Linked DNA regions of Homo sapiens: all the other regions are reported to be linked to region 5. The links are microRNA targets in miRTarBase. Many come from high-throughput screens and were not tested one by one. Region 5 holds a microRNA gene; each other region holds the end of a gene's coding sequence.

Region 1 (4,065 bases), not on the chromosome of region 5:
ACTCTGATAGTGCCTATTATGTTTCTTTTTTTCCCTTTTTTTCTTTTTTAATGCTGGTTGCAAACCAGAGTTTGAAAAACACTGCTCTAGAAAAATTTTCCCTTCAACACATCTGAAGGATGTAATGCATGGTGTATACCAGTGACTATGGCTCACTTACTAGCTGTGTAACCATGGGCAAACTACCTGACTTCCCTTGAGACTCAGTTTCCTAATCTGTGAAATGGAAATAATCTCATCTGGCTAACAGAGTAGTTGCAGAGATTAAATGAGATAATGCACATTAAGTGACTAGTGCAGATAAAGTCTTCAAAAAACATTAGCTTTTCTTTTTTTTTTTTTTTTTTTTTTTGAGACAGGGTCTTGCTCTGTCACCCAGCCTGGAGTGCAGTGGTGAGAACCTCCTGGGTTCAAGAGATCCTCCCTCCTCAGCCTCCAGAATAGCTGAGACCATGGGCACACCCCCACTACCCCCAGCTAATTTTTTTTTTTTTTTTTGAGACAGAGTCTCGCTCTGTCTCCAGGCTGGAGTACCGTGGCATGATCTCGGCTCATTTTAACTTCTGCCTCCCAGGTTCAAGCGATTCTCCTGCCTCAGCCTCCTGAGTAGCTGGGACTACAGGCACGTGCCTCCATGCCCAGCTAAATTTTGTATTTTTTTTAGTAGAGACCATGTTGACCAGGATGGTCTCTCTTTTTTTTTTTTTTTTTTTTTTTGAGACAGAGTCTCACTCTGTCGCCCAGGCTGGAGTGCAGTGGTGCGATCTCGGCTCACTGCAAGCTCTGCCTCCCAGGTTCACGCCATTCTCCTGCCTCAGCCTCCCGAGTAGCTGGCACTACAGGCACCCACCACCACTCCCGGCTAATTTTTTGTTTTAGTAGAGACAGGGTTTCACCGTGTTAGCCAGGACGGTCTTTATCTTTTGACCTTGTGATCCACCCGCCTTGGCCTCCCAAAGTGCTGGGATTACAGGTGTGAGCCATGGTGCCCGGCCCTACACCCAGCTAAGTTTTAAATTTTTTGTAGAGGTGTAGTCTAGCCATGTTGCCCAGGCATTTCTGTCACCTCAGCCTTTTAAAGTGCTGAGATTATAGGCATGAGCCACTGTTCCTGTGGCCTTTTATTATTATTATTTTTTGAGACAGAGTCTTGCTCTGTTGCCCAGGCTAGAGTGCAGTGGTGCAATCTTGGCTCACTGCAACCTCTGCCTCCCAGGTTCAACCGATTCTGCCGCCTCAGTCTCCCAAGCAGCTGGGACTACAGGTGTGCACCACCACGCCCAGCTAACTTTTGTATTTTTAATAGAGACAGGGTTTCACCATATTGGCCAGGCTGGTCTCAAACTCCTGACCTCGTGGATCCACCCACCTCAGGTCCCAAAGTACTGGGATTACAGGCGTGAACCACCGTGCCCAGCCGGCCTGTTTTTTTTATTTTTTTGAGACAGGGTCTCACTTGATCACCCAGGCTGGAGTGCAGTGTTGTGATCATAGCTCACTGCCACCTCAAACTTCTGGGCTCACATGATCCTCCTGCCTCAGCCTCCTCAGTAGTTAGGACTACAAGTGCATGTCGCCACACCTGGCTAATTTTTAAATTTTTTGTAGAGACAGGGTCTCACTATGTTGGCCAGGCTGGTCTCAAACTCCTGGTCCCAAGTGATCTTCCTGCCTCAGTCTCCCAAAGTATTAGGATTACAGGTGTGAACCACCATGTCCAGCCTGCTGTTATTTTTATTATTCAGAAGTTTGGTGAGGAGTAAAGGAACTAGAGCAGTTTTGGAGTTCAGGACTCGTTTCTTTTGGATGGTGAACCAGGCTGAAGTTACTGGAATGAGGCAGAGGATAGGTGAGGACACAAGATCCAGGCATTAAGCACCGTCTCTCTGCTTGGTTCTACCTACTTCACTTCCCTCCTAGGGTCTTGAAAGGACTCAGAGACCTGAGTCTGTCACTAACTCCTTCTCCAATCCTACTCTAACTTGCTCCCCTTCACGCTTCTACCCTCCCCATCTGAGCACAAGGATTAGGCCCGTCTAGGTGACAGTCAGAGGACAGCACAGGGTTGCACAGACAACAGGTGATCTTGCCTTCTTCATGCCTGCATGCTCACCTGCCCTGCAAACTGGAGAGAAGAACCAATATCCACCGGTTCATCCTGTCCAAGCCCCACCAGACTCCATGAAGGCACATGGCCCTTTCATTTTTCTCTTTTTTTTTTTGTTTTTTTTTAGACAGAGTCTCGCTGTCACCCAGGCTGGAGTGCAGTGGTGTGATCTCGGTTCACTGCAACCTACATCTCCTGGGTTCAAGCGATTCTCCTGCCTCAGCCTCCCAAGTAGCTGGGATTACAGGCGCCTGCCACCATGTCCAGCTAATTTTTATATTTTCAGTAGAGACAGGGGTTTCACCTTTTTGGCCAGGCTGGTCTCGAACTCCTGACCTCAGGTGATCCACTGGCCTCAGCCTCCCAAAGTGCTGGGATTACAGGCATGAGCCACTGCACCCGGCCTGCACACGGCCCCTTCTCATCAGCGGGGGAAAAAGGAACATCTTCCACGAGCAAGAGCAGGGAATGAATCTCAGAAACAGGTTGTAAAAAAGGCTTATTTATTGAGAGCAGCGAGTGTAAAAACAAAAACAAAAACAAAAAAACAAAACAAACAAAAAACGACAACAATAAAAGTGTGGGGTAAGGATGGCCCACCCTCCTCATCTCCAGGGCCCACCCCTACCTCCCATGCCCACCCACCCCACGCTGCAATTACATATAAAAGCCGCCCGTGGTGCATACAAAAAGGGCGGTTTATATAGTGTCAAAAGCTCCTGAAAACTCCTTCATCTGCCAGGCACTTAGGATGAGGAAAGGAGAGAAGGGTGGGGAAGACGTGGGTCTGGGTCAGTGTGCACAAGCCCAGAGTGGGGAGGACTCACTTGCTGTGTCCTCTATAATCCTGGTCTAGACCCCCAAGTGGGACCAGTGGGCCAAGAGACTCATTAACCCTGTGTGCCCAGAACTTGAGAATATTAAGGAACTCCCCACAAACCCAGCTCATCCCAAGCCTAGCCCTCCCCAGGCAAAGTTGGCAGATGAGTGGCAGAGTTGGACCCGGTCAAGGGGAGAAGTTGAAGGCCAGAAATTGGGGTTACCTGTGGCACCCACACTGTCCCTGATAGAGGAAGAGGTGGCAGGGAAAACTGCCCAGCTCAAAGCCCTAGTCGCCCAGTTTGGGTCCAAGTCAGCCTCCCAAAGGATGAGGGTGAGGAAGAGGAGGAAAGGCCAGGCCCTGCTCAGACCTCAGCAATGCCTGTTGCACTAGGGCAGGGGCCTCAGGGCCCAGGAGGACAGGGATCTTGCCCATCATGCTGTGAGCTTCCCTCTAGAGATGTCCTCCCCTGCCCAGGCCATCCTGAGCGGGCTCCCTCCTCACGGCTTGCTGTCCACGGTGCTGTCTCCCAGGGCGCTGGCAATCTCACTGAAGGAGGGCCGGTCCTTGGGGCTGAGGGCCCAGCAGCGCTGCATCAGCCGATAGAGTTTGGAAGGGCAGCCCTCGGGCTGAGGAAGTCTAGCCTTCCCAGCCTGCAAATCTGTAGGGAAGACAGCAGGTGCAGTGTTGGCCAAAACATTCAACAACTTGTTCAACACTTTGTGGACCTTGCAGTTTATACAAGCAGCCACCCAAGGATGCCTCTGGGGCAATGCTGGCCAGCGGCAGGTGGGTACCCGCAACGGAAAAAGATGACTCCCCTGGCCCCACTCACTCTGGCTGGTAGGACGGGGTCCATGCATAGGAGCTGAAGTGGGCTGGCGGACAGGCGTCAGAGTGGCTGGAGTGGGCACTGGGGGCAAAGGCTATTTACCAACCAATATAGAAGTATTGCAGTATTTTCGGCCAGGTGTGGTGGCTCACGCCTGCAATCCCAGCACTTTGGGAGGCCGAGGCGGGTGGATCACAAGGTCAGGAGTTTGAGACCAGCCTGACCAACATGGTGAAGCCCCCCCATCTCTACTAAAAATACAAAAATTAGCCAGGGAGTGGAGGTGCGTGCCTGTAATCCCAGCTA
Region 2 (4,065 bases), not on the chromosome of region 5:
TTGCTCTTGGGCATTTTGCCTCCAATTAGGATGTGCTGCCATCAGGTAGCCTATGGTGATGCCTTGGTTGTGAACCTATAGTGCCAAGGTCAGGTTTTAGACATAGGAAAAGTTAACAGAAAACATGAAATGGCTTTTACGCTCAGTTGACCCATCATTTTATTTAAACTATGAAACACAGGAATAGAGGCCAGCACTCTATAAGACAAAACGTGATGTAGCTTATGATTTATGTAAATGTAGCTACAACATAATGTCAGTCATTCCCATCAGTAGGGCGATTTAGGTTATCCCCTCCCCCATCTCCCCCATTGCATTGCCTCAAGAGAAGCTATCCTGCCAGGCCCTCCTCCAGCGGCCAGGACAGCCACTGGGAGAGGGATGGCATCCCCATCCCCCTCACCCACTAACCCCGCCAGAACAGGCCTCCTCTGACTCAGATCTGGGGCTAGGGAGGAGAGGGGCAGAGGAGAAGCAAAGCCCATTCTGACTTTGTCTTTCTGTCCTTCATTGTTTCAAAAGGCAACAGATTCCGGAAAAAAGCCAGAAGAAGAAGAAGAAAACCAAATGGCGGGGAGACCGGGCCACAGGCACCCACAAACTGCAATGTGTGATCTTGTGACAGGCCTGAGGCCCTGGGCACAGTGACGGTGGCCTGGCCAGCCCTCGGGACCCCTCCCCACCTAACTGCACTGAAACCATTTCTAACCACAACCCTTGGCCCAAGGACTTGGTACAGGAAGGGAGAAGGGCAGGTGGGCAGGGAGCAGACAGGGTCTGGCTTTGCCCAGAGGGCACGGGCTTTCCCACCTCTCAAAGAGACAAGGAAGCCACCTGTAAGCAGAAGCAGCATCCAAGTGCCCCTGGCCCCCCCATGTGTTGATTCAACCCGGTTCCTCCCCCTCTCTCGGTGGGTGTGTTGTTTATTGTAACTACATAGTGTTGGTTTGATGTGGAAGTGTTTATCCACATACAAAGTACAAAACAAGCCATGAACAAGCTTCTTTCCCTTACCCCCCATCCACAATGTCTGAGCTTGGATGTCTTTTATAGATTTTTAAATTATTTTAGTGATTATTATTTTATTAAAGGGGTCTGGGCTCACTGCCTGGTGAAGTTTCAAGTGTTCAGCAGACCTCTCTGGTAACATATCTGGAATATTGTTGTTGTTTTTTAACCGAGTTTTCCCATCAGTGCCAAAACTCAACTCAATCTGAAAGTAGAGTGTCTGAGAGGACAGAAGGTAATGGGAACTGTAGCTGGAGGCCTCAGGCCATGGGTCAAACCTGGGAGGGAAAGAGACCCTACACATGGCCTAGAAATGAGAGAAGAGAGAGGTATTTACCCAGAGGATTTTCCTATGGTTGGGGATGCAAATATTAGAAAACAGATTGTATTTTGCTGAGGGGAGTGGCTGTCATGAGCATGTCAGTTCTAAAAGGGGTTTTCATTATCCTGGAAATGTATAAACTAAAGTAAGCTGATTGGCTTTGCAAACATGTTCATTTGTTTTTCAGACAGTATGGGTTAAGTTCTCTGCCCTCCCCAGGGGTCTGAGGAGGCTCTGGGTTTCTCAGATCTGTCTCTTGCTGCGTTTTCACATCAGCTGTGCTGCTTGGTGCCTCTCTGATACGAATACACTGACACGTCAAAGTAACCTAATGTGGACACCATCCAGAAAACTCCAGTTCATGCTGGATCTTAACCAAAAATGATTCAATACTGTTATCACTAAAACAGCACCAAGACCTGAAGCCATCTTCCCTTGGAGTCAACTGACTACCACCTCTATAAGCCTAGTCAATGAGCAGACCCCTTCCAGTATTTGTAAAAGTAGTACTAGGTTGCCTTTTTGGCAATTTTTATTGACCTGTTGAATCTTGACTATAAAATGATCTGAGAAGTAAGGAAGGCTGGGCTGATGTGTGGCTCTCATATACCTTCTGCAAGGGGGCAGTCTCCCCAGCTCCCTGATGATGCTCACCCCCGCCCCCCCACCTCAGGTGCTGCTGGTGTGAGCCAAAGACTGGAGTTTTTCCAGCTGGGGTGGGAGTGGAGAGACAACAGGAACAACGCTGCACCAAAGAAAAGGTCAGAATAAAAGGCAGCACAGCTGGTGACCTTATTTTCTAGATGTTACAAATCAGGTCACTATGCAAACTAGAATATCCTCAGCAGGTGGCCTGGCCACTCTGGAGAAAGAAACCCAAGGAAAGTGAGCACCCAACTGGATGCCAAGACACCCGGGTTCTGAAAATGTGCTGTGTTCCTACCTCGGCAAGATCACCAGCACTGAGGGGCCCAGCTGGAGAATGATTCTGCTACAAAAGGAGACAGTTGAGACTTTTGCTTGTTGGAAATCAAACTTCTTATTTGTCTAAATTGCCCCTTTTTCTGTTCCTAAAAGGAAGGATAAGAGAGAACATTCCAGGTGAGGCACTTCAAAGTTTCCTTAGACCCTATAGTGTTAAGAGGTATTTTAAACACTAAAAGGACAAAGCTCTTCCCAATCCTTATGCTTCCCTAAGTGGTATCTGCAGCAGTTTGTTGTGTGCAGTTTGATGGCAGCTGCAAACTGGAGGTGAGGCGGAGGAAAGGCAGGTAGGAAGGAGTAAGGATGGAGATGCTCAGAATCAAGAGCATGGCGGAGTAGGAGAAGAAGCCCTGCACACAGGGCAGTGTCCACAGCCAGAAAACTCCTGCTGGGCACCAACCACTACGAGCATACCCCATGCCCACCGTGGAGCTGCAACTCCTCGACAGCACTGAGTTTGATAGTCTCACTGGAAGCAGATCAGCTGATGTAGAACAGAGACCTCGGCCATAAAGGTGAGAAGACATAGGGATTTCAACCACACAGTTGGGACAGAAGGGACAGTGCATCTGTTCATCCATCCTGCACTTGGCCCACGTTGAACTCCATGGTGCCTGAGAGAGACTAGTTAAGGGTTGGTCTTCTGTATCCTCTGCTGTTGAGCCTCTGGTAAGCTTTCATCTCCCATGAACTCATTTCCCCATAAATGAAATGGGTAAATAATGCCCCATTTGTAGAAGTGGGCCCTCATGACTGAGGTAGCTTCCAGATAGGCCAGAGTAGAGTGTAGAGTGTGCCCCGTGACATCCCTCCATCTTCTCCTCCATTATCATCTAGCAGGGTCAGACTGGGAAACCTGGTTGGCCACGCCACACCATGACCGAGGAGCCAACTGGGACTTCTGGCTGTTTGACATCCTCATGTTCCCGTTGGTCTTCCGGAGAATAGTGCTACCCTCACATCCCCTGGAGCACAGCCTTCCTGAAATGCCCTCACCCCATGCCTTTGCCATTGTGTGCTCTCAGATTTCTTCCACTGTTTGACACCCTCCTTAGAGGGCTGCTCTTTTTTTTCCAGAGATAATCCTAGCCATCCTCTCCACTCCCACGGCTGGGGACAATGGCCACTTACTACCTGTGCACTTTGCCACTCGGGACACCTGGATGGTTTCTCTTAGGACTTTGCCCACCTCCTTCTCATGGCACTTGCTGTGGAAAATGCCTGGCTGGCCTCGTGGGGCCTGTCTCACTTTTCCAGGAGACATGACCCACTAACGTGGCAACTTTAACCCAAAGGCCCCTCAGACATGTTACAGCAAATCTGGAGCCACAGACAGGTTCCCTCCATTGGCAGCCCATTGTGTTTGAAATTCCATGTCGGGTTTACTTGGAATGAAAGATACTTGAATTATTGTGCGCCTGTGAGCGCCCAGCTTCTGTTTCATAGTCTTAACAGGTGGCCATTGTCGTGAAACGAGTGATGCCTGAAGATCTCAGTGATGTTTGAACCTTCTGTGTAACTTTTTATTAAGTCTTTGTATCTCTCGACTGATTAATAAAGAAGAGAAACACGTATCTGTCTTAGTTCCTTTTACTCCAGTATTCCTGAAGTTTTGCTGAGAACATTGTGAGTTGTTGGTGTTTTGCCCAGAACATCCACGTCTTACAGAGCATGACCTTGGTGCTAACCAGATCTGAAGTAAGGAGGAGCCCACTGGTGGCCGTGGGGTGTCTCCTTCCTGCATGGAGCTG
Region 3 (4,065 bases), not on the chromosome of region 5:
CCACAGCTTATTCTGTAGCTGAGCCTTGAGGCTGAGAAATGAAACCTGCATCTTAAAGAATGCTACGTTCTTTCTTCCCCGACTCATCTCTGCACTATAAAGTTTAATGTTAATAACATGATGACTAAGTCACGGATCATGTCCTGTAGGGAAAATGAATTGGAGTATGACGCCAAAAGCCCTATGCCAGGTACTTACTAGCCATTATTTATCTAAGCAGCCTTTGGAAATCAAGATTATCTCCACCATTTTGCCAATGAAAAAACTGAAGTTCAACAAGACTGCTTTTGAAGGTTATGAAGAAAACCCAGACTTTCCTGCCTACACTGGGTGCGGTGGCTCAAGCCTATAATCCCAGCACTTTGGGAGGCCGAGGTGGGTGGATTGCCTGAGCTCAGGAGTTCAAGACCAGCCTGAGCAATACGGTAAAACCCCGTCTCTACTAAAATACAAAAAATTAGCCAGGCATGGTAGTGGTGTGCACCTGTAGTCCCAGCTACTTGGGAGGCTGAGGCAGGAGAATTGCTTGAACTGGGAGGCAGAGGTTGCAGTGAGCTGAGATCACACCACTGCACTCCAACCTGGGCAACAGAGTGAGACTCTGTCTCCAAAAACAAACAAATAAAAAAAGCCTTTCCTGCCTAAAGTCCACGTTCCTTCCAGTACCCGCACTGTTTGTCTAGAAGCCAGTTTCTAGCACGAGACCCGGGAACAGCTCAGCACGATGTCCGGTCACAGCACTTGACACTTGAGCTAGGCGGTGGGAGCAGAGGTCGGATGTCCGAGATCTGCTGGGGCTGAACTGAACACCTGTTGAATCATGCTTGTCTAGTAACAGCAAAGTCACCAGAATGCAGAGAATGAGCATCCATCACTTTGCAGGTTCGGAGGACCCGGCATGTGACGGGCAGCAGTACTCTTCCTGCTCTGCAAAAGAGCCCCTACATGTGGCATTTAAGGGCTTTCTGCCCCCTCCTCTGCCCAGGCTTGCTATCACGTCTCCTGGGTCTCCTGGGATCTAGTCTAGAACATTCCAGGGGGCACTGCCCACCTTCCCTAAAAGCTGTGGGATCTTATGCTGAAGCCTCTGCCTGCTAATTGACTCCGGCTTTTCCTTCTATCCCTCATGAGAACCATGGGCCAGGGCTGAGGCTGAACACATGGAATTGGGCACGGGTCCCCATCGAGAGCTCCAGAAAGCCCAGGCTGCATCTTGCTCAGCCTGGCTGGACGCAGAAGGTGTGTTTGTTCTTAAGATATCCTAATACATAACAAGCAATGTGCTCTTCACAGAAACAGCTGCAGTGAAAAAAAAAAAAGATCACACAGCACTAGAGCCCATCTTGGGAGGTGACCTCAGGTCTCACACCTCAGTATCTCCAGATCCCCAATGCTAAATGTACCCCATCAGGGCGTTTGAGACTTTCCATCAAGGAGAATTTAGCTATATAAATTTAACATTATAGATTTAACTACACAAAACAGAGAAGTCAGCTGTTTGTCTAAGCTTTCAATGACAGATATTTTAATTGTGGAATTTTTAAAGCAAACAAAGCAATGGAAACTTCATTTTTATTCTAGACCAGTCTATCCCAGACATGCTGATTATGGTTGGCTGTGCTGAGTCCTCATTTACCGTATGAAATGCAAATGTCTGTCAATTGCAATGCCTGGGGCCAAGCCAGGCCAGTGGACTTGTGTGCAGTTCCCACCGGAGCCAGGAGCTGCTCAGACAGCAGACCCAGCCCAGTCCACTGGGTTTTGCAAACACAGGCTCCCTCTGCAGCAGCATGGGCTTGTGGAAGGGAGGCATGCCGCCGCCAGCATGCATGCCAGGGGTCCGGGGTTCTCCCCGTGTCTGCAGAGGTGAGGGGTACAAAGTGAGCTGGAAACAAAACACTGTGTTCCCCCTTGGCCTTGAAGAAGTGCCTCAACCAACTCCTCGCCAGCTGCAGAGTACTCAATCTCCTCACAGAAAGAATGTGTACAAAAAAACTAGAAGCTTTTCTTTTTCCCAAATGGCTGTTGAATTTATTTGCTTGATCAATAATGGTCCTGGCAAAAATTAGTTAACCAATGCTGAGACATTTGTAATGAAATACTAATTTTAAAAATCCATGACACCTTGATAGAAATTAGAGTTTACACAAACAAAAAAGGAACCTTCGATATTGCCAGCAGCTATAAAGTGAACGTACTGAGACCGACAGGACAGCAAGAAGGCATTTGCACATTTATATCTGACACCCGACCATACTTTCAGTCACCAGAATATCTTCTCTCCAGATTTAAAAAAATAGTATGCTGATTTCTATAACAAAGCTTTTTTTCGTACAAAAATCAAATAATGGCCAACGAGTCACAACAGTGCAATAGGTAGAGGATTAAAAACTGCATCAAACAGGTGCTGAAAATAAATACTACCTAGGAGAAGGAGGTGAGAGCCCTCGTGTGGGGTTTGTTTTCGACCCCTTGAGTGTGTGTGGGGTTTGTCTTCCGAGCCACGAGCCTGGCCTGTCTCGCGGTGCTGTTCACTCTGACAGAGTGCGCCTGCAGCACGTTGCCTCCAGGGCCCAGCCTCCCAGAAGCCTCAGAGCATCAGAGCATCCGTCTCATCGGATGGACCAGAAACAAGAAAATGGGGTGGGGTGAATCACAGCTATCATTCAAAGGAAAGGAATTTTTTTCTATTGCTCAATCTTGTCAATTGGGAGTCCACCAGTAGGTTCACTGAGATGATATGGATAATTTCAAACTTTTGTTTAAGAGCATATATATGGCTTATTCAGGCAAGGAGACGTGTACATTCTAGCCCAAGCAAGCAATCGGAGTCATTCTGTTTTTAAGGAAGGTCAGTCGTTTAAAAGATTTCTGGTTTGAACAACATCCTCTGTGGATGCACCAGGCCAAGGTGACTACCTTTGACCAACCCAGTGAGAAGGCCTTTGCTGGTCCCCGCAGTGAGGAACTGGCAGGAACGGGCAGCCTCCTCCCCGCTGGACTGCACTGCCGGGGGCCGGTGGGCAGGCTCCACAGGCAGCCCCTGTCTGTGGCCAGACAGGCCGTCCTGGTGACTCGGGCTTATAGACTGTGGTTTAGAACTGCAGAAGGAGAGAGGAGAGTGGGCCAGGGAACACCCACCAGGCGCTGCTCTGACCAGTCAGAGAACGTGAGGCAGCTCCCCCATAGGGATCTGCACCGAGAAGGTGTGGAAGGCACAAGCAAGAGTGACGGTACCAGAGATCCCAGAGGGCGTGGCTCGCGGCGGCCACAGCAGGCGCAGCGCTGACCTGGGGTGGTTCCCCCCTTGAATGAGAAAGAGATCCTGATTCTGCTGTGATAAAAAAGCAAAGAAAGACGGTTTTTGGTTTAAAAAGAAGCCACTCAAGGGTTAAAATAGTTATTTTAAGTTAACAAAGAAAATTAATCTTCAAATAAGCTGACACTATCTGGAAAACTCATCTGTCCCTAAAGCCCACAATGCGTCCACTGCTTCGTCCTCCCATGGAACCTGAGCCTGACGTGAAGGAGTCAGACGTGTGACAGAGGAAGAGTCTGAGAAGAGAAGACACCTTTACAGAATGTACAGCGAGAGAGCCGGCCTGGCCCCCGGGTTACAGTAAGATGCACGGGTCCTTTCAGTCTCACGGACTCCAGACGGCCACGCAGGCTGCTCAGATGGACGTCTCCTTCCTATCCCTGCTGGGCGATGGCTTTGCCGGCTCCTTGCCTGCCTTTGGCTGCTCTTTAGCTGCTTTTGGCTCAAGGACGCCGTCTCTGGGCGGCTGGACGGCACCCCCGCGCCACTCAGGCTCCTCGTCCTCCTGCGCCTGCTGCTCGGCCTTGGCTCGCTGCATCTGGAGCAGCCGCAGCTGCACGCGCAGCTCGATGATGGCCTCGCGCTCCTCATGAATTGCTTGATTCAAATGATTGTTCTTTATCTTGGGGAATGACAGAAAGGGCAGTTATCACTTAAGGAAGTCAGAGGACGATTTCTCAGGAGCAGAGCGCGGTTAGCAAGGGCATCCTACAGAGGAATCTGGTTTTGTTTAAGTCAATGGGTTG
Region 4 (4,065 bases), not on the chromosome of region 5:
GACAGAATGAGACTTCGTCTCAAAAAAAAAAAAAAAAAAAAAAATCTGGTGACGGCTTGAAAAATCTAGCACTGAAAGGTAATTACCAGTAAAGTTTGGTAAGTCTGTTTGGTATGTCCTTGATTTTATTGTTGATAATGGTGTCATTGAATTGAATTGGGGCTTAATAATATGGAATAACCTACTGATTGTACATAGTTTAAATAATTATAAATATCTTAATTTTTCTTTACAGGGAATGGCCTTAAGTCTTGGAGATAAAATCAACTTGTCACAGAAGAAAACTAGTATATAAAAATAAACAAAAAGTCCTTGAAGCTTTACAGTTAATTTAGGTATGGGCTTACTGGACTCCAACATCTTTTGTACTCTTTCATGCTTATATAGAATCTGAGTTCATGCTGAATACTTTTCAGCCAATAATTTATAGCCTTTCCCTTAAATCAAGATTGAGTTTAAAATTATAGTTTGTCTTTTGTCTTAACAGTTCTGAATGCTGTCCTCAAAGTATATAATGTTTCATGTACCAAGACCCTTTTCACAGTACAATAAACAGATCTATTCATAAATTTTTGTTATTTTATAAATAAATGATTACATAATTTTAGTTATATGGCAATGGATTTCTTTTAGTTGGGTTATAAATTTCTATTATAAATTTAAATTACTGAGTTGTGAATATATGCAGCTTTATTAAGAGAATTTACAAATTCAATGATATAAAATAAGGTAGGCCTTGATTCACTTGGTTGTTTTTTACTTATTTAATATTCCAACATTGCTATCTCTAAAAATGCATTATCATGTTTTGAAGGGATTTGCTCTTGAATTTAGCTCCAGGGAGAAAGTATCAAAATAACTTTTTTTTTTTTTTTTGAGATGGAGTCTGGCTCTGTCACCCAGGCTGGAGTGCAGTGGCGTGATCTTGGCTCACTGCAAGCTCCACCTCCCGGGTTTACACCATTCTCCTGCCTCAGCCTCCCAAGTAGCTGGGACTACAGGTGCCCGCCACCACGCCTGGCTAATTTTTTGTATTTTTAGTAGAGACGGGCTTTCACCATGTTGGCCAGGATGGTCTCGATCTCCTGACCTCGTGATCCGCCCGCCTCAGCCTCCCGGAGTGTTGGGATTACAGGCGTGAGCCACCGCACCCGGCCCAAAATAACTTGAGAAAACAGATCGCTCTGCAGTTTAAAGAAGTATTATGTACCCGAACTGAAATAGATATACTGTTCTTAATTATCCTGAATCATAATGAAGAGTAGATAATCCAAAATAGATTTTTTAATCATTCACATTTAGTTTGGGGTGTTCTATGTTTGTTAGGAATAAAACTGGTTCTAACCAATTACTGAAGCTGGTACTGGGAGGATTCAACTAGAGAGGATTCAAAAAGCTGCCTTTTTCTCTGTTGCCTCCGTGCCTTACTCACATTTAGTTTAGGGTGTTCTATGTTTGTTAGGAATAAAACTGGTTCTAACCAATTACTGAAGCTGGTACTGGGAGGATTCAACTAGAGAGGATTCAAAAAGCTGCCTTTTTCTCTGTTGCCTCTGTGCCTTACTCACTCGTCTCCTTTTCCTCACTTCACACTAGGACTGGGTACCATCACACTGCAGTATAATTCCAAATGCATTTCCAAGCTAAGTTTCCCAGCGTCTGATTGTGCTTTCCTTTTGGCCTTTACTTTCATTGGGGGTGATTGAGGTAGTCTGATTTTTTAGCTAAGTCTAAACTTAAGGCTATTATTTGTCTACCAGCTAGGGTTCAGGCTGCATTCCCTGTGAGTCCTTAGATAAGGTCTGTGAAAGACTGAAAGCATCTCCTATTTCATTAAGAATGAAATGATTTGTTTGGAGTATAAGGAGATTGATACCTTGTATGATGTCATAAACTGTGAAGCCACTTGCTTTTAAAAAAAAAAAAAGAAAAAAAAAGCCTAGATTACAGGGCATTTGAGATTCCAGAACACTGAGATCTTAGAACAAAGCCAGGGCTTATCAAATGGGAAAGATATACTGGAAGTGCAGAGAAGGGATGTCGATTCAAGGGTAGAGATTTGCAATGAGAGCGAAGGAGCTGGTGCAACTTTGGATTAGATCATCATTTCCCAAACTCTGTTCTACTGAACATTAGCTTCCTTAGATGTCATTAGATATTCTGAGTGAAAAAGTAATTCCATAGTCAAGTAAGTTGGGGAAAAGCTTCAAACTGTCCTGCACTGGAGATTCACAATGTACATTAGCATACCAGAGATTCTGAGAGGAAAGCAGATTAGTTTGGTTTAACCCAGTATATCCTAACCTTACTTTACCAGGGAATCCTTTTTCCATGACCTATTGACAATATATGGGACAGGAAAAGTGACTTAGCCTGTTAATGATATTAGTGTTGTAATCACAGTTAACCAGTATCACATTTCATATCTGAAGGAATTATGCCTGTGTACATCCTAGAATATATCTCGGTTGATACTCTTAGAAAGTTGCCTGCCTGACATATTCAGGCCATTTTTGTTGGAATCAGATTGCCTCACATTGCCATTTTCTTAAATTCATAAATAAGGAGAACAAAGAAGTTAACACAATTGTCAGATACATTAAACTGTTTACTTCATTAGCATTTCATTAGCTTTGTGCATGTAATAAATGTGAACTGAATTGGATAGCAGCACATTGTTGAAAGAAGCTGTTTACACTATGCCCTGTTATTTGGGATATAATATACATTCAAAGATAGTAGCTGTTCACATTATAAGATACCATATAATTAGGACCATGATGTCCGGTAGAGAATAAACATTAAATACCAAATGAAAGCTTAATATATTAATGTATTGAATGTGGATAAACCTGTAAAGCTTACAGGAGCATTAAATGGCTTACATTGCAGTAATGTCACAACACTAGAGGGAGCTCTGTGCAGTGATTTTTTTTTTTTTTTTTTTTTTTTTTCATTTTGCAATTAGAAGAGATTGGCACTCAGTTGTTTTATAAGAAGAAAAAGGGTCAAGTGTGGTGGCTCGCACCTATAATCCCAACACTTTGGGAGGCCAAGGCTGGAGGGTGGATTGAGGCCAGGAATTCAAAACCAACCTGGGCAACATAGACCCTGTCTCTACAAAAAAATTTTACAAATTAGCCTGGTATGGTGGCATGTGCCCGGGAAGCTGAATCGGGAGAAATTCTCGGGACCAGGAGTTCAAGGCTGCAGCGAGCTATGATTGTGCCGCTGCAGTCCATCCTGGGTGACAGGGTGAGACTCCCTCTCTTTTAAAAAAAAATTTTTTTTTAAAGGAGCCTGGGCATGGTGGTTTATGCCTGTAATCCCAACACTTTCGGAGGCCAAGGTGGGAGTATCACTTGAGCCCAGAAGTTCAAGACCAGCCTGAGCAACAAAGAGATCCCCCATCAAAAAAAAAAAAATTTAAGAAAAAGCAAGATTATTTTTCCTTTTTTAAAAAACTTTTTTTTTTTTTTTTGAGACGGACTCTGGCTCTGTCACCAGGCTGGAGTGCAGTGGCACAATTGGCTCACTGCAACCTCCACCTCCCTGGTTCAAGCAATTCTCCTGCCTCAGCCTCCTGAGTAGCTGGGACTACAGGCGTGGGCCACCATGCCCAGCTAATTTTTATCTATTTTTAGTAGAGATGGGTTTTCACCATATTGGCCAGGATGGTCTCAATCTCAACCTCGTGATCTGCCTACCTCAGCCTCCCAAAGTGCTGGGATTACAGGCGTGAGCCACGGTGCCCGGCCTTTTTTTTTTTTTTTGGGACGGGGTCTGGCAGTGGTGCGATCTTGGCTCACTGCAACCTCCACCTCTCTCACCTCATCACCCGAGTAGCTGGGACCACAGGCACATGCCACCATGCCCAGCTAATTTAATTTTTGTATTTTTTGTAGAGACAGTTTTGCCATGTTGCCCAGGCTGGTCTCAAACTCCTGAGCTCAAGCAATCCATCCACATTGGCCTCTCAAAGTTTTGGGATTACAGGCGTGAGCCACTGCACCTGGCTATTTTTCTATTAGCAAGGTAATTCGTAAATGAGAACAAAGAGAAGGA
Region 5 (4,065 bases):
GCTGGCTGCCCATCACCAGCTTGCCCAGGGACCTCTTGCACCCTGGCGGGGATCAGCAGATCCTGCTATGAGAGAGCAGAAGGCAGCATGCTGACTTCCAGGAGTGTCCACAGCGTGGCTGGGCAGAGCAGAGCTACAAATGAACAGATCCAGTGCCGAGGCCATCCTGACTCTCTCAGGGGCTGCCAGGCCGTGGGTGCAGGGTCCAGCAGGCCCACTTGATCCCAGCATCCCACGTGTGCCTGCTCGGGGTGGCCAGCTCACTGCTTCTTCACCTCTAGCCCAACCAGCAGGTGCCCCACCATGAGCCCCTCCAGGCTCACCTTGCCCATCCCTGCCATGTGACCTGGGACTCTTGAGATGAGATCACAGCTGCAGAGCACACAGCACAGGGAGGAGCTCATCAGCATCTTCCCACCTGTGGTGCCCTGGCCCAGCCTCCTTCCGGTTGGGGTTGGACCCGCCCTGGCAGCCAGGTTTTGCGTCACCTGCCCCACCCGCCCTGTAACCTACTTGCCCAACTGCTATCCCGGTGGCCGTGAGGCCAGTTGACAGAATGGAGAGGGGTAAGCATTTTCCGCCTGGAGAGGATGGGCGTGTGGCCATCTGACTGCTTCTGCAAGCCTGGTGGTTGTGTGCAGGCTGCCCTGGTGGTCTTAGCCCCTTGGGGCAGGCGGGGTCCTGTGCAGGATGCAGAGACTGGGCGTGGCTTCCTGCAGATGTTCAGATGCTTCTGGGCTGTGGCCTCTGAGACCCAGGGCAAGGCTGCTGACTGGACCCCAGACCCTCCTGCCTGCCTCTTCCTCCAGCTGCTCTTTGTGGTCTGGTTCTGGCCGCCTGGGCCTCAGGGCCAACCCTGCATGGCTTTGACCACTCTGGCCTTCTTGGACTGCCAAGGACATGCTGAGAGTTGGTTGGGCTTGGCCCAAGTGCTGAGCCCAGGGCAGGGGTGGGGACAGGCAGGGCGGAGCCTCACCTGGAAAGCCAGGCACGATTCTCCCTGGGACACCAACCCTCCTGTAGAGTTGGCCAATTCGGGCAACCTTGAGGGCGAGCTCTGTGTGGCACAAGAGATGCCCTGAGGAGCCCAGCCTCACCTGGTGTGATGGGACCTGTGGAAGTTGTGGGAAGTGGTCCTGGCCACCCGTGTGCCCACATGCCCTGCGCCCAGATCAAGATATGGTGACCAAAAGGACAAGGACTATATCCATGGCTCCCTCCCAGAGCCTGGCAAGTCAGCAGGCATGAGAGGGTGTTGGAATGCTGTGGTGGGCCTGTGTGGGGACCTTGTAGGACCTAGGGAACCTGCAGGGCTTGGCTTAGGGAGCACACAGGGGCCCAGGCAAAGGCAAGGTCACAGGTCGGGGGAGGTGAAGCTGGCAGGGGGAGGGGGAGACCTGCTGGCTAGAGCTGGGTTGGGGGCCGGTGGGCAGTGGGCCTGGCTCGAGCAGGGGGCGAGGGATTGGAGAGAAAGGCAGTTCCTGATGGTCCCCTCCCCAGGGGCTGGCTTTCCTCTGGTCCTTCCCTCCCAATGACCGCGTCTTCGTCGAGGCCACAGCCCTTGGCTCTGCGCCCACACCTCCAGTGCCAGGCTGTCCGGAGATCTGTTTATGGCCTTCCCTTGGACCATGGAGCCCTCCCTGCCACTGGTGCCTGGAGGGCTGGTCTGCTGCCCCTGCACCCTGGCCAGCTAGGATGGTGGGGTCCTGCAGCTGAACTGGGGGTGCCTTTCTGCCTGTCTGTCCTACGTGTATCAGTGGCCAGAACTGCCCTCATCCATGGCCTTGCCAGCAGCTGGGCGTGCAGCCCAGGGAGGGCTGAGGTCGGCTGAAGTTGATTGAGACCAACGGCCTTCTCTAACACCCCAGAGGAGCATGTCCCTGGTGAGCAGGCCTTGGGCAGCCCTGGGCTCCAGGCCAGTGGGATTCCAGTAGAGACCAGCTGGCAGGGCTTCTCCAGTGACTGCAGCCAGGGGTTCTCATGTGCAGGAAAGACCAGCTCCTCCAGAGTAAAGGGACTTGTGTCTTCTGGCCACATGGTGAGTGCTGGGCCCACCCCATCAGTGGCACCTTGGGTGCACTCCCAAAGCCCAGCGTGTTCCCCATCTTCCTGCACTGCATTCGGGATGGTTCTGCATCATCAGCTGCACCTGATTGCTCTTAAACCCACAGCTGAGCTTTAATGTGCAGTCACTGAAGCTTTCATTTCTAAAATAGCTTCCTAAGAGTTCTTTTGGCCAGGCATGGTGGCTCATGCCTGTAATCCTAACACTTTGGGAGGCCGAGGTGGGTGGATCACCTGAGGTCAGGAGTTGGAGACCAGCCTGACCAACATGGAGAAACCCCGTCTCCACTAAAAATACAAAATTAGCTGGGCGTGGTGGCGCATGCCTGTAATCCCAGCTACTCGGGAGGCTGAGGCAGGAGAATTGCTTGAACTCGGGGGGCGGAGGTTGCGGTGAGCCGAGATTATGCCAGCCAGCCTGGGCAACAGGAGCAAAAACAAAACAACAACAACAAAAAAAAACCGAGTTCCTTTTGCTGCTTTGTAAACCCAGTTTGCTCTTCATCACTTCCTTTGCCCTGCAGATGTTTCTGAGCTGTCTGTTTTCTTTCTGCCATCAGAGCATGGTTGGTTGATGATGCATGTACGGTTATCTTTCTGCTGGTTCTTGCTCATGGTGCTTCTTTCATTATGTGGTTCTTTCTGACTATGTACTGCTTCTGGTCTTTGAAAAATGATTTTGAGACTTCTTTGAAGTATAGGATGAAGGTATCTTTCTCCAGAGAGAACTTCAGGCACAGGGGCACTACGAGTGCTGGAACCCCTTAAAACTGTGCTTGGCTTGTGGGTCCTTGTACCCCCAGTGTGGACCTGGACGGCTGGCTGTGCCACAGCTTCTCAGAAACTTCCCTTCACTTATGTGCAATGTCCCCATAACCCCTGGGGGTGGCTGCGGCTGTAGTTCATCTCTCCCTAAGCATCGCTCTTTGGAGTCCCAGCCTAACTTAGAGGAGAGTCTTCTGTTAGGTTCTTCATCCTGTGGGGGTGACTGGACCTTGTCTTCTGTCTCCTTCGCCCCCGAGGCCACCAGAGTATGAGCCCCAGTGTGTTCAGTGGGCAAACGCTCTCAGGCAGGATTGGCCACTGTGTTCTGCTGTCCTCTGTGGGCCACGCTCTCCGAACTGTTGGCCAAATGCTGCATGAGCTCATCAGCTCCTGGCAATTTTTAAGATGTTTTCATATTTCATCCAGCATCTTGAGTTGTTTTTACCAAAAGGATTGCCCCTAGTAGCCTGCCCACCCTCGGATGATGGCCCCCTGTGGGCGCTTCCAGGGCACCCGGCAAGGGGACCCAACCCACTTCCAGCCCCACAGTCTGCTTCCCACAGGGCCCCCTTGCAACAACACACCCTTTAGCTTCCCATCCTATGCAGAGTGGTGGCCAGCAGACCATCTCAAATGGCTGCCCATCCCCCTGACCCAGTGCGTCTGCACGTGGCGCTTATTGCTATCCCAATACTTCAACTGCACAGCCACCAGCTCCTCACTGGAGCAGATGGTCCCCAATGGCCATCCCTAATGCCCGTGCCTATGGAGGCACATACACTGAGCCCTCTTCACCTCCGTCCCCACTCATTAGACTTTTCTCAGAGGAATCTTTTTGGGTCTCTTCAGTATTTGAACAGCTTCTTGGCTGTCCCATGTCCCAGCTGTGAGCACTGGCTCTGCCCTGGAGCCGTGTCACTAAATCATTGCACATGTGCACATTTCAGGGAACTTGGGTGTCACCCTTGGGTGGCCTCGGAATCTAATCTCCGTTCTGCACTCGTTTGCATTGTGGAAAACTGCCTGCTCTGGGCCCCAGAGGTCCCTGGGTGGGGACGAGGTGTATGCTAAGTGTGCAGTCACCCAGCGTGTCCCCGGCACGTGTCCATGCCAGCTGCTGTGGGTGTGTGGGGCCTTCGGGTCCTGTGGGATGGCGAGTGTGTGTGCTGAGCAGGACCTGTAGGGCCTGCATCCCAGGTGAGTGGGCCATGCTGTTGGAGGCGGAGGCAGGGCTGC
Region 6 (4,059 bases), not on the chromosome of region 5:
CTGGGGAGGCTGAGGCAGGAGAATGGCGTGAACCCGGGAGGCAGAGCTTGCAGTGAGCCAAGATCACGCCACTGCACTCCAGCCAGGGTGACAGAGTGAGACTCCGTCTCAAAAAAAAAAAGTTTACAAACCTCACCCTAAAGAATTCTTGCCTTCAGGTGTAACTGTCTTCTTTGTTTGTTTGACAGAAACCATACTCAGGAGGTCTTTGTCTCCAAGAAACAGCCCGGGAAGGCAGCAGCATCTCTCCACCATGGTTCATGGCCTGTAGCCCCCCACCCCTCTCTGCTTCCTGCAGCCCCACTGGGGGTTCCTCCCAGGTGCTGAGTGAAAGCGAAGAGGAGGAGGAGGGGGCTGTGCGGTGGGGTCGGCAGGCGCTGAGCAAGCGGACACTGTGCCAGCGGGACTTTGGGGACCTGGACTTGAATTTGATTGAGGAAAACTAAAACTGAGAGGCTACTTCCTGGGGCCACACAGACTGACTCTCTCATGGCTACTAACAAGTGTCGAGTCCCCAAGGCTGGGGGCCGAGCCTGGGAATGGGGGTGAGTGGAGGGCTCCGACTCAGGGCAGCTGGAAATCTTCTCGCTCCAGCAAGCTCGACCATGCCAAGAGACTGGCCGGGACAAGATAAACGGAGCTGGTGGCGGGAGGGACAGCCCCAGAGCAGACCCTTCCTATGGCGGCCCTGAGTGTGAGTATCCCTGCCACCAAGAGAGCAATGGGCAGGGAAGGAAGGGGTCTGCCGACCCCAGCTCGGGGAATTTCACTAGCCCCTTTGCTTCAAAGGGCACTTGTGTCTTAGAATTTGGCCAGGGTGGGGGGTTGAGTCAGCCTCCTCAGAGAAACTGCGTGAGAGTGTGTGCGTGCATGGGAGTGTACTTGTGGAAAGGTGTGTTTGCGTAGCCTTAGGGAAGGAAGGCAATTGCTCCTTAACAGCAGAGTATCATGATACCCCCAGGATCTTGAGTTTTTTACAGGATGTTGGGTTTGCTCAAGGAGTCAAGAGGAGGGCACCAAGTTTTCCTTTTTTCTAAATAGCTCTGGAACCAGGCTTGTAATCCATAGCATCACCGACTCTGCAAAGGATTTCATTTTGGGGTACAGCAGGGTGTTTTAAGTGCTGTGACTTCAGCTAATGATCTTTTCTTCAGCCCCACCCCCTCCCCACTAGCTCGATCTAGTATATTGGGGAATGCAGGTGGGGGGTGTCACCATATTTTTTCTGAGCTGGCCTTTTTTTCTCATCAGATTGTCCAGGCTATATTCCACCTGCCTCTTTTGCCCTCTTGAGTAGAGTTGCACACAGCACATGGGCAACTGAAGCAGGGTTGAGGGGCTCTCTCTCTCTCTCCTCTGCTGATGGGACCCTTTTCCCCTCACCCTCTGCCCTTCTAAGTCATAGACTAGGTAGGAAGGCCCTATATTGGTCCCCAGCATCTACTGAGGCAGACCTGCAACAGAAGTGGCATTCAGTCCCCAGCAGACATGGGTGAGCTCACCCCAGCACTGCTGTTGGGAAGGTGACTGCAGGAAACCAATTCTTACAAGATCCAGGCCCAGCCTTTTTGACCTGCTTGAGAGGGAAGAAGGGGTGTTTAGCATTTAATAGTTTGCTTGTCTTCCACTCCTGCCAGGAAGTGTTTATTTGCCTCTAATTGGGCCTGAGAGACCATAGGGAGGTTGGGGCTCACTGAGGGATTGGCTGAGGATGTATAAAGCAAAGGCTGTGAGAAGCAGTTGGGAGTTTGGTTGTCATTGGATTGAATTTACTTTTTTGTTTCTCACCCGCAACTTGAGCCAGGACAGCTGGTCCAAGTGGCCACAGTGATGGGTTTAAGTACCTTGGTAGGGCTGGCACCAGTGGAAACACATACTGAAGCTGCCACCACAATAGCTTGTGAGGTTTTATCCAGCTGTGGTTAGACCCTGCATGACCAAATTTGACCTGCCCTTGTTTATGGCAAGAAGGGCATTTTTCTCTTCAATTTCCAGGGTTTCCTAGGACCCAGTTCCTCATGTAAGGGAGGAAGACCAAGGTCTTTGTGTTTTCTTCCTCATGGAATTGAACCTGACATTTTCTGGATCTCCTGCATGTCAGGAGCATCAGTGAGGCTTCAGCCTCCTCGTCTCCACTCCAGAGAGGAGGTGGCTATGTCTTCTTAAGCCTCTGGCCCTCAGAGGCTCCTCCCTATCTCCTGGCTAGTTACCACTAGGCTACCAGGTCTCTAGGGGCCTGAGAGAGGCCCTCTAGAGAATCCAGGGAAACTGTGAGCCCAGGAGTTGCCCATCTATGGTTTCATTCCTCCCCTGGCTCTTCTCCCTCTTCAGGCCATAATTTCCCTGGTGCCAATTTCTTTTCCTCCTGGGGCATCCTCATCCCAGGGCTCTCTGCTGTAGATTGGCTGTGCCAGCTTCCAACAGGTTACTGGCAATGCCAGTGAGTTTCTGTAGGCCCTAAGCTGAAGAAGTGAGGCAGTGATTCTGCCTCCATCCTGGTTTCCCCAAAGCCCCAGGGCACCATCCTTAGGGGAGAAGGTCTACAGTTATCATTATTTTAATTCCATTACTTTCAGTCTGGAAAACTAAGCTAGTCAGAACTGTCATCTTGCTTCCCAATCTAAGAACCTGTGGCCCTGGAACACTTTTCAAGAATTGGTTCATTTTGCTTTACACAGTAGATCTGTTCCAACAGTTCTGTGTAAACCAAATGCTATTTTTCAATGCATTTGGACTGCTGACCATTTAAAAGCAGCCTATGATTGCTTCTTTTTGTAAAGCAAGCAACCTCCCTCCACTTTAGCTGTTTTGACTATTTGAATTTTCACATATTGGGCTTACCCAGAGTGGAGCACACCTCCAGGGCATGTGGCTGACACTGGGTCAATGTCTGCATCTGTGCTGTGTGTGTAGTGTGGTTGGCCAGTAGGTGAGTATCCCTGTGTGTGTGAGTGAAGCCACTCCCCAGGCTGGTGCTCTCCTCCTGTGCCCAGTGACTGCCCAGTGGCAGCTCAGCTGCCCTTCACTCCCACCTGCTGCCAAAGTCCCTGTGCTAATGGGATTACAAATACAAAAAGTGGAAAAAAATTTTCGTAAACTTTGTTTTATATTAAAAGAAAAATCCATAAGTCTGTGTGTGTTAAACATGAGGTTCTGCCTCTGTGGCTGTGTTTGAAAAAATAAAGTTTTATTAGAATAATCCATTTTCCCAAGCAACCTTGTGTACTACAGTGTCTTCTTCCCTTCCCCACAAAGACAAGGAAGAAGCAGGGTAGAAGGCCACCTAACTGTTCCAGCCCCTTCATCTAAGATGTGGGTCAACCTTTCAAAAAGGGGCAGTATTTGGACCCTAGGCCCTTTGCCGGCCATGGCAGGATGTTATACTGTGGCCCAGGCTTCTGCTAAGGCCTTGGTTATTTTTGGCAGTCTGGTTTGGTCTCTCTTTCCCTGGCAGTTATACTTGTCTCCTCCTGCCTGCTGTCACTCTCACTTCCAGCAAGTTGAAGTCAAGTATGAATGCATTCCAGCTCCCTGAGAAATGGTTTATGGTACAGTCAGGAACTTGTCTAGATTGGTTTGTAGGCTTTGGGAAGTAGGGAGAAGGCAGGGTGGGAGACAGCCAGGGATCTTTCTTAAGTTTTCACATGTTACATCCTGGAGAGATAGAGGTTTAGTCATCAGAATTCAGATTCCATAGACCTAGGCAATTTTTCCATCCTAAAAATACTGCTTTTGGAAAATAATCCTAGCTGCAAAGCTTCTCTTTTGTTGTAGAAGACAGTATTTTCCCTAATGTTTCCTTTGGGAGTGTTGGTTTGCCAAAAGAAGCTATGTGGCTCACTCTTTAGACCTTTCTGTTCCACCCTTTCTTCTCTCTATGTTGACATTCTTCCAATGTGTGTGGGTGAAGTGTAGTTGCTTAGAGATCCAGGCAGGAGCCTCTGTCTCTAAGGCTTAGCCTTTCTTTACCAGTTGTGGTGCTAATTTGCCAGGCAGCAAGAAGAGTCAAGTTGCTTAGCTTATGTCCTGGTTTCCTGCTTCAAATTGGTGGCACTCATC
Region 7 (4,065 bases), not on the chromosome of region 5:
ATATCCAAATTAACACTACATACCATATAACAAATTTCTTCCCAAAAATCACGTAGCTCTATCAAATACTTAATACTGCTAGTAAATCTCATATATTCATGCTTTTAAATCAAATAAGGGTACTATGGTCTGAACACTTTCAGAATTAAGCCATGTATGAACTGAAGTCTTACATACACATGCATACATCTGTAAAGTAATGAGAGCTACACGTAAGCAGGAGCCAATTATTCACAGATGGTCACATTTTTCCTCAGATGGTCAAATAAGGCTTATTGAGACTCTTTCAAGATCAAAATGTTAGACTGTTGGAATGAAAGCTCCAAGAAATGCAAATACTATGTCTGAACACAGCTAAGCAGGAAAATACAATTAATGCAACAGAAATACTTGAAAGTCACAGGCTTTGAGGACTTTACATTGCAATGTTCAAACTGAGCTTCTCCTTAGCCTGTTACCTTACTTTCAATTATGTCTAGCAGTCCCCAGTCCTTCAGAACTTAACAGCCACTGGAGAGAGAGAGAGAGAGAGAGAGAGTGTGTGTGTGTGTGTGTGTGTGTGTGTGTGTATATGTGTATGAGAGACAGAGACAGAGGCAGTGAGAGACAGACAGATGAGAGAGGGAGAGAGGGAAATGAATAGCCAAACACATGGAAAACTGTCCTTCTTGAAATTGGCACACTGGACCTTTCAAGTACAAAGAAAAATTTGAACGTTGCAGCTTAAAATTCAGTTAAGAGAATTAAAAAGCAAGTCATAAATGCCACATTTTTCCTCAATAAAAAGTTTTGACTACTGTGTTTATCTGTTGTCTTGAGTAACTTATTCATGAAGCTCTCCTATTCTTCCCCAAGACCATTTTGAAGAAAGAAAATACAGGTTGTTCTTGCTTTGTAAGCAAGAAAAAAAAAAATATTGTATATTTTTTTGTCCCTAGGAAGCTGCTTAGTTGGCAGCAGAAAAGAGACAGGACAGTTTGGTAAGAACAGTTAAAGAGGCACAAATGACCCTTTTGCTGAGTCTTTAGAAGAGGTATTCACTGGAGTTAACTGCTCTGACCAACCCTTAGGAAGCTTTTTAGGATTAAAAAAAAAGGGGGGGGCCTGGGAGGGGTGACTCATGCCTGTAATTCCAGTACTTTGGGAGGCCGAGGTGGGTGGATCACCTGACATCAGGAGTTCAAGACCAGCCTGGCCAAGATGGTGAAACCCCGTCTCTACTAAAAATATAAAAATTAGCCAGGTGTAGTGGCACAGACCTGTAATCTCAGCTACTCGGGAGGCTGAGGCTCAAGAATTTGCTTGAACCCAGGAGGCAGAGGCTGCAGTGAGCCAAGATCCTGCCATTGTAGACTCCAGCCTGGGTGACAAAGTGACCTTGAATATCTCCTGAGGAAGAGGAACTTGAAAAAGGAATATTCAAGGTGCTGTTCCTGGTGTTAGTTGCACCTAACGACACTCCAGCCTGGGTGACAGAGTCTCAAAAAAAAAAGAAAAGAAGAAAGAAAAGAAAAGCTGGTCCTTGAGTTCACTTTGTTAACAAGGCAGATAAAACAATTTCTATGCATCTCTCCCACCCCATCCCATTTTTGGCAGAATATAACAAGAACAAAAAGTAATGGACTTCACAGGTTTAAGAAAAGGAATATATGCCATTGTTTTCTTAGTTTTTTTTTTAAGTTTTCAAATTTTAATATGGGTTTTTAAACGTATTATAAACTTCTGTGGGGCTTTTAAAAACCTGTACCTAGGCCAAGCACGGTGGCTCATGCCTGTAATCCTGGCACTTTGGGAGGCCGAGGCAGGTGGATCACGAGGTCAGGAGATCAAGACCATCCTGGCTAACACGGTGAAACCCCGTCTCTACTAAAAGTACCAAAAATTAGCCAGGTGTGGTGGCACGTGCCTGTAGTCCCAGCTACACAGGAGGCTGAGGCAGGAGAATCACTTGAACCCGGGAGGTGGAGCTTGCAGTGAGCTGAGATCACGCCACTGCACTCCAGCCTGGGCAACAGAGCCAGACTCCATCTATTAAAAAAAAAAAAAAAAAAAAAACCCTACCTATATCAAGTTCTTCTATGCTTTAGCAGGTCTCAGGTCTCAATTTCCCATTTTCAGATGGCAGGCCTGTTTTTAAAGGACCAATTCATACTTTAAAATATGTGTACACACACACACACATACTTACACACACAGAGACATACAGAAAGACTATATATTTTTTGAAGCACCATTTCACATCTACCAACAAGAAAAATAACAAATTCATATTCTCATTATAATTCTGTTATGAAGGATAATAATGAAATATACAATGCCATATTTAAAATATAAATGCTATCAGTAAATGAAAATACTGACAGAGCTTAAATCTCTGTTCAGAAATATTTTTAAAGTAAGGCTCAAATAAACGTGTAGATTACAAACACTATTTCCTGATCAATCCTAATATTTAAATGAATGCAAAAGAATTTATTTCAAGACCAAATAAATAGAATGAAGAGAGAATACTAAATTAAACTCAGCTGATGAAACATCCATTGTTAACTGCACCCATGCAAAACTCCACAATACAACTAACTGCTTTTACCCTTATGACCCGATGCAAAATGCAAGCACAAAACGGAGAATATGTATGTACTTAACTTTTTAGCTTTCTATATTTACGGCTAAATAATTGTCTAAGGAAGACCTTTGCTTTAAATAATCTTGGCACATTAAAGGGTAACACAGCTCCCTAATTTGAAGAACAAGACATAAAATTCAGATAATTTATGCATTGTTATAATTTAGAAAGAAGCCTGTATCTAAACCAAACTTTGAGAATAAAGGCTGATTGCTTTTATTTATTTGCTAACTGCTTGACTTTAACTACGGACATTAAACTCAACATCAGTTCAACATCTGTCATAGGTAAGAAGCTGTTCTAGATGCTGACATTAGCCAGCACTTGATTATGAGCCACTGTGTTTTATCAAGCTGCCTATATTTTTCAGTAGCAACTTACCTACATATTCCATAAGTTATCAACAATCAAGTTTAAAGTCTAGGCTCCCTCCTACTACCCAGTACATGACAAGATGATCTCCCCCAATTTCCAGCTAATTAGTATTTAGGAAATATCAACTTGGAAATGTAAATCTACTTGGAAAATAAAAAAGTACACCATGCAGTTGAAAACGAAAGATAACTTGTTTTCTGACAACCCAGTATCTGCATCTGACATGGCTTCCCTACATTCAGAAGATAACTGAAAACTGATTATACAGACACACACACACAATCCTTCTCTTCATGTACATGTCTGTGCACATGCACGCACAAATACATTTGTAATCTCACTCATTACCTTTACATTTTGTTTATCAGTATTTAAACAGCTGAACTGCAATCATGACCTAGAATATGGCTTATGTTATGGGCAGGTCTGTTTGAGGACTGCTTGGAAGAGTCAGAGGCAGAGGAATTTGCTATTGTAAGCAAAGGTGACATTGCTGAGCCATCAGGAAGCGCTGTGGCTATTTCTGGAAACAAAGATGTCATATTAAAATTGGATAAGTGAGAGTTGGTCATGTGCATTGGTGGCATATCTGGGAGAAGAGGAAAACTTGGTTGAGCAAACCCAACAGGTCTGGGAGGAGATAAAATTGATCCAAATCGGTTATTTAAACTTCCACTGTTTACCTTCTCTGTGCTAGGATTTGAGAACATCTGATTAGGAAAATAGGGGATTGAAATATCATTGGACAGTGTAGGATGAGCAGGAGAGTATGGAGGATAGAAGGAGGGCAGAGTATTTTGCGGATCTACCGGGATGAGGGCTGGAGTTCGAGTGGCACTAGGCTGAGTAACCTGTGGAATGAAAGAAGCATTAGCATTTATTGGTGGATTCATGCCACCCTCAGGAATAAAAGAAAAACCAAAATTTTGTGATAGTGTATGCTGGTCAGGACCTGAATTATCATTAGGTACTTGTGGGCTATCAGGCATGAAACGAACAATACTTCCTCTCTTCTCTGTGGCAGGTTGTTGACGTCCAAGAATCATACTGCCACCAGTAGAGAG

The links. The annotated mature microRNA hsa-miR-185-5p reads UGGAGAGAAAGGCAGUUCCUGA and lies in region 5 at 1,464-1,485, shown strand. An mRNA with a match to its seed (bases 2 to 7 or 8) in the 3' UTR can be bound and repressed. Matches are read on the target gene's strand: a 7mer-m8 pairs with bases 2 to 8, a 7mer-A1 pairs with bases 2 to 7 and ends in A, and an 8mer does both.
Region 1: miRTarBase lists PTK7 as a target of hsa-miR-185-5p. Seed matches in the 3' UTR shown: 7mer-m8 at 2,868-2,874.
Region 2: miRTarBase lists MRAS as a target of hsa-miR-185-5p. Seed matches in the 3' UTR shown: 7mer-A1 at 3,409-3,415.
Region 3: the mRNA of RALBP1 is a reported target of hsa-miR-185-5p. Seed matches in the 3' UTR shown: 7mer-m8 at 3,110-3,116.
Region 4: the mRNA of COPB1 is a reported target of hsa-miR-185-5p. The part of its 3' UTR that is shown has no 7-base or 8-base seed match.
Region 6: miRTarBase lists FAM53C as a target of hsa-miR-185-5p. Seed matches in the 3' UTR shown: 7mer-m8 at 1,349-1,355.
Region 7: miRTarBase lists USF3 as a target of hsa-miR-185-5p. Seed matches in the 3' UTR shown: 7mer-m8 at 624-630 and 8mer at 512-519.

Annotation. Positions count from the first base shown.
Region 1 is chr6:43,160,244-43,164,308 of GRCh38, reverse strand. It overlaps PTK7 (protein tyrosine kinase 7 (inactive)), which reads right to left. Exons shown (of 20, transcript NM_002821.5): 20 at 2,594-3,588. The coding sequence ends at 3,428. Among named protein-coding and RNA genes, the nearest start is that of SRF, 9.0 kb to the left of the region's middle.
Region 2 is chr3:138,401,648-138,405,712 of GRCh38, forward strand. It overlaps MRAS (muscle RAS oncogene homolog), which reads left to right. Exons shown (of 6, transcript NM_001085049.3): 6 at 523-3,886. The coding sequence ends at 622. Among named protein-coding and RNA genes, the nearest start is that of ESYT3, 31 kb to the right of the region's middle.
Region 3 is chr18:9,535,547-9,539,611 of GRCh38, reverse strand. RALBP1 (ralA binding protein 1) reads right to left here. Exons shown (of 10, transcript NM_006788.4): 10 at 1,498-3,941. The coding sequence ends at 3,675. Among named protein-coding and RNA genes, the nearest start is that of RALBP1, 62 kb to the right of the region's middle.
Region 4 is chr11:14,454,054-14,458,118 of GRCh38, reverse strand. COPB1 (coat protein complex I subunit beta 1) reads left to right here. Exons shown (of 22, transcript NM_001144061.2): 22 at 236-607. The coding sequence ends at 295. Among named protein-coding and RNA genes, the nearest start is that of COPB1, 44 kb to the left of the region's middle.
Region 5 is chr22:20,031,690-20,035,754 of GRCh38, forward strand. It overlaps MIR185 (microRNA 185), which reads left to right and starts at 1,450; the gene lies at 1,450-1,531. All of the region lies in intron 1 of TANGO2 (transport and golgi organization 2 homolog), which reads left to right. RefSeq lists enhancers at 1-160, 595-814, 2,498-2,567.
Region 6 is chr5:138,346,514-138,350,572 of GRCh38, forward strand. FAM53C (family with sequence similarity 53 member C) reads left to right here. Exons shown (of 5, transcript NM_016605.3): 5 at 189-3,216. The coding sequence ends at 446. Among named protein-coding and RNA genes, the nearest start is that of KDM3B, 4.1 kb to the right of the region's middle.
Region 7 is chr3:113,651,572-113,655,636 of GRCh38, forward strand. It overlaps USF3 (upstream transcription factor family member 3), which reads right to left. Exons shown (of 7, transcript NM_001009899.4): 7 at 1-4,065. The coding sequence ends at 3,373. Among named protein-coding and RNA genes, the nearest start is that of USF3, 43 kb to the right of the region's middle.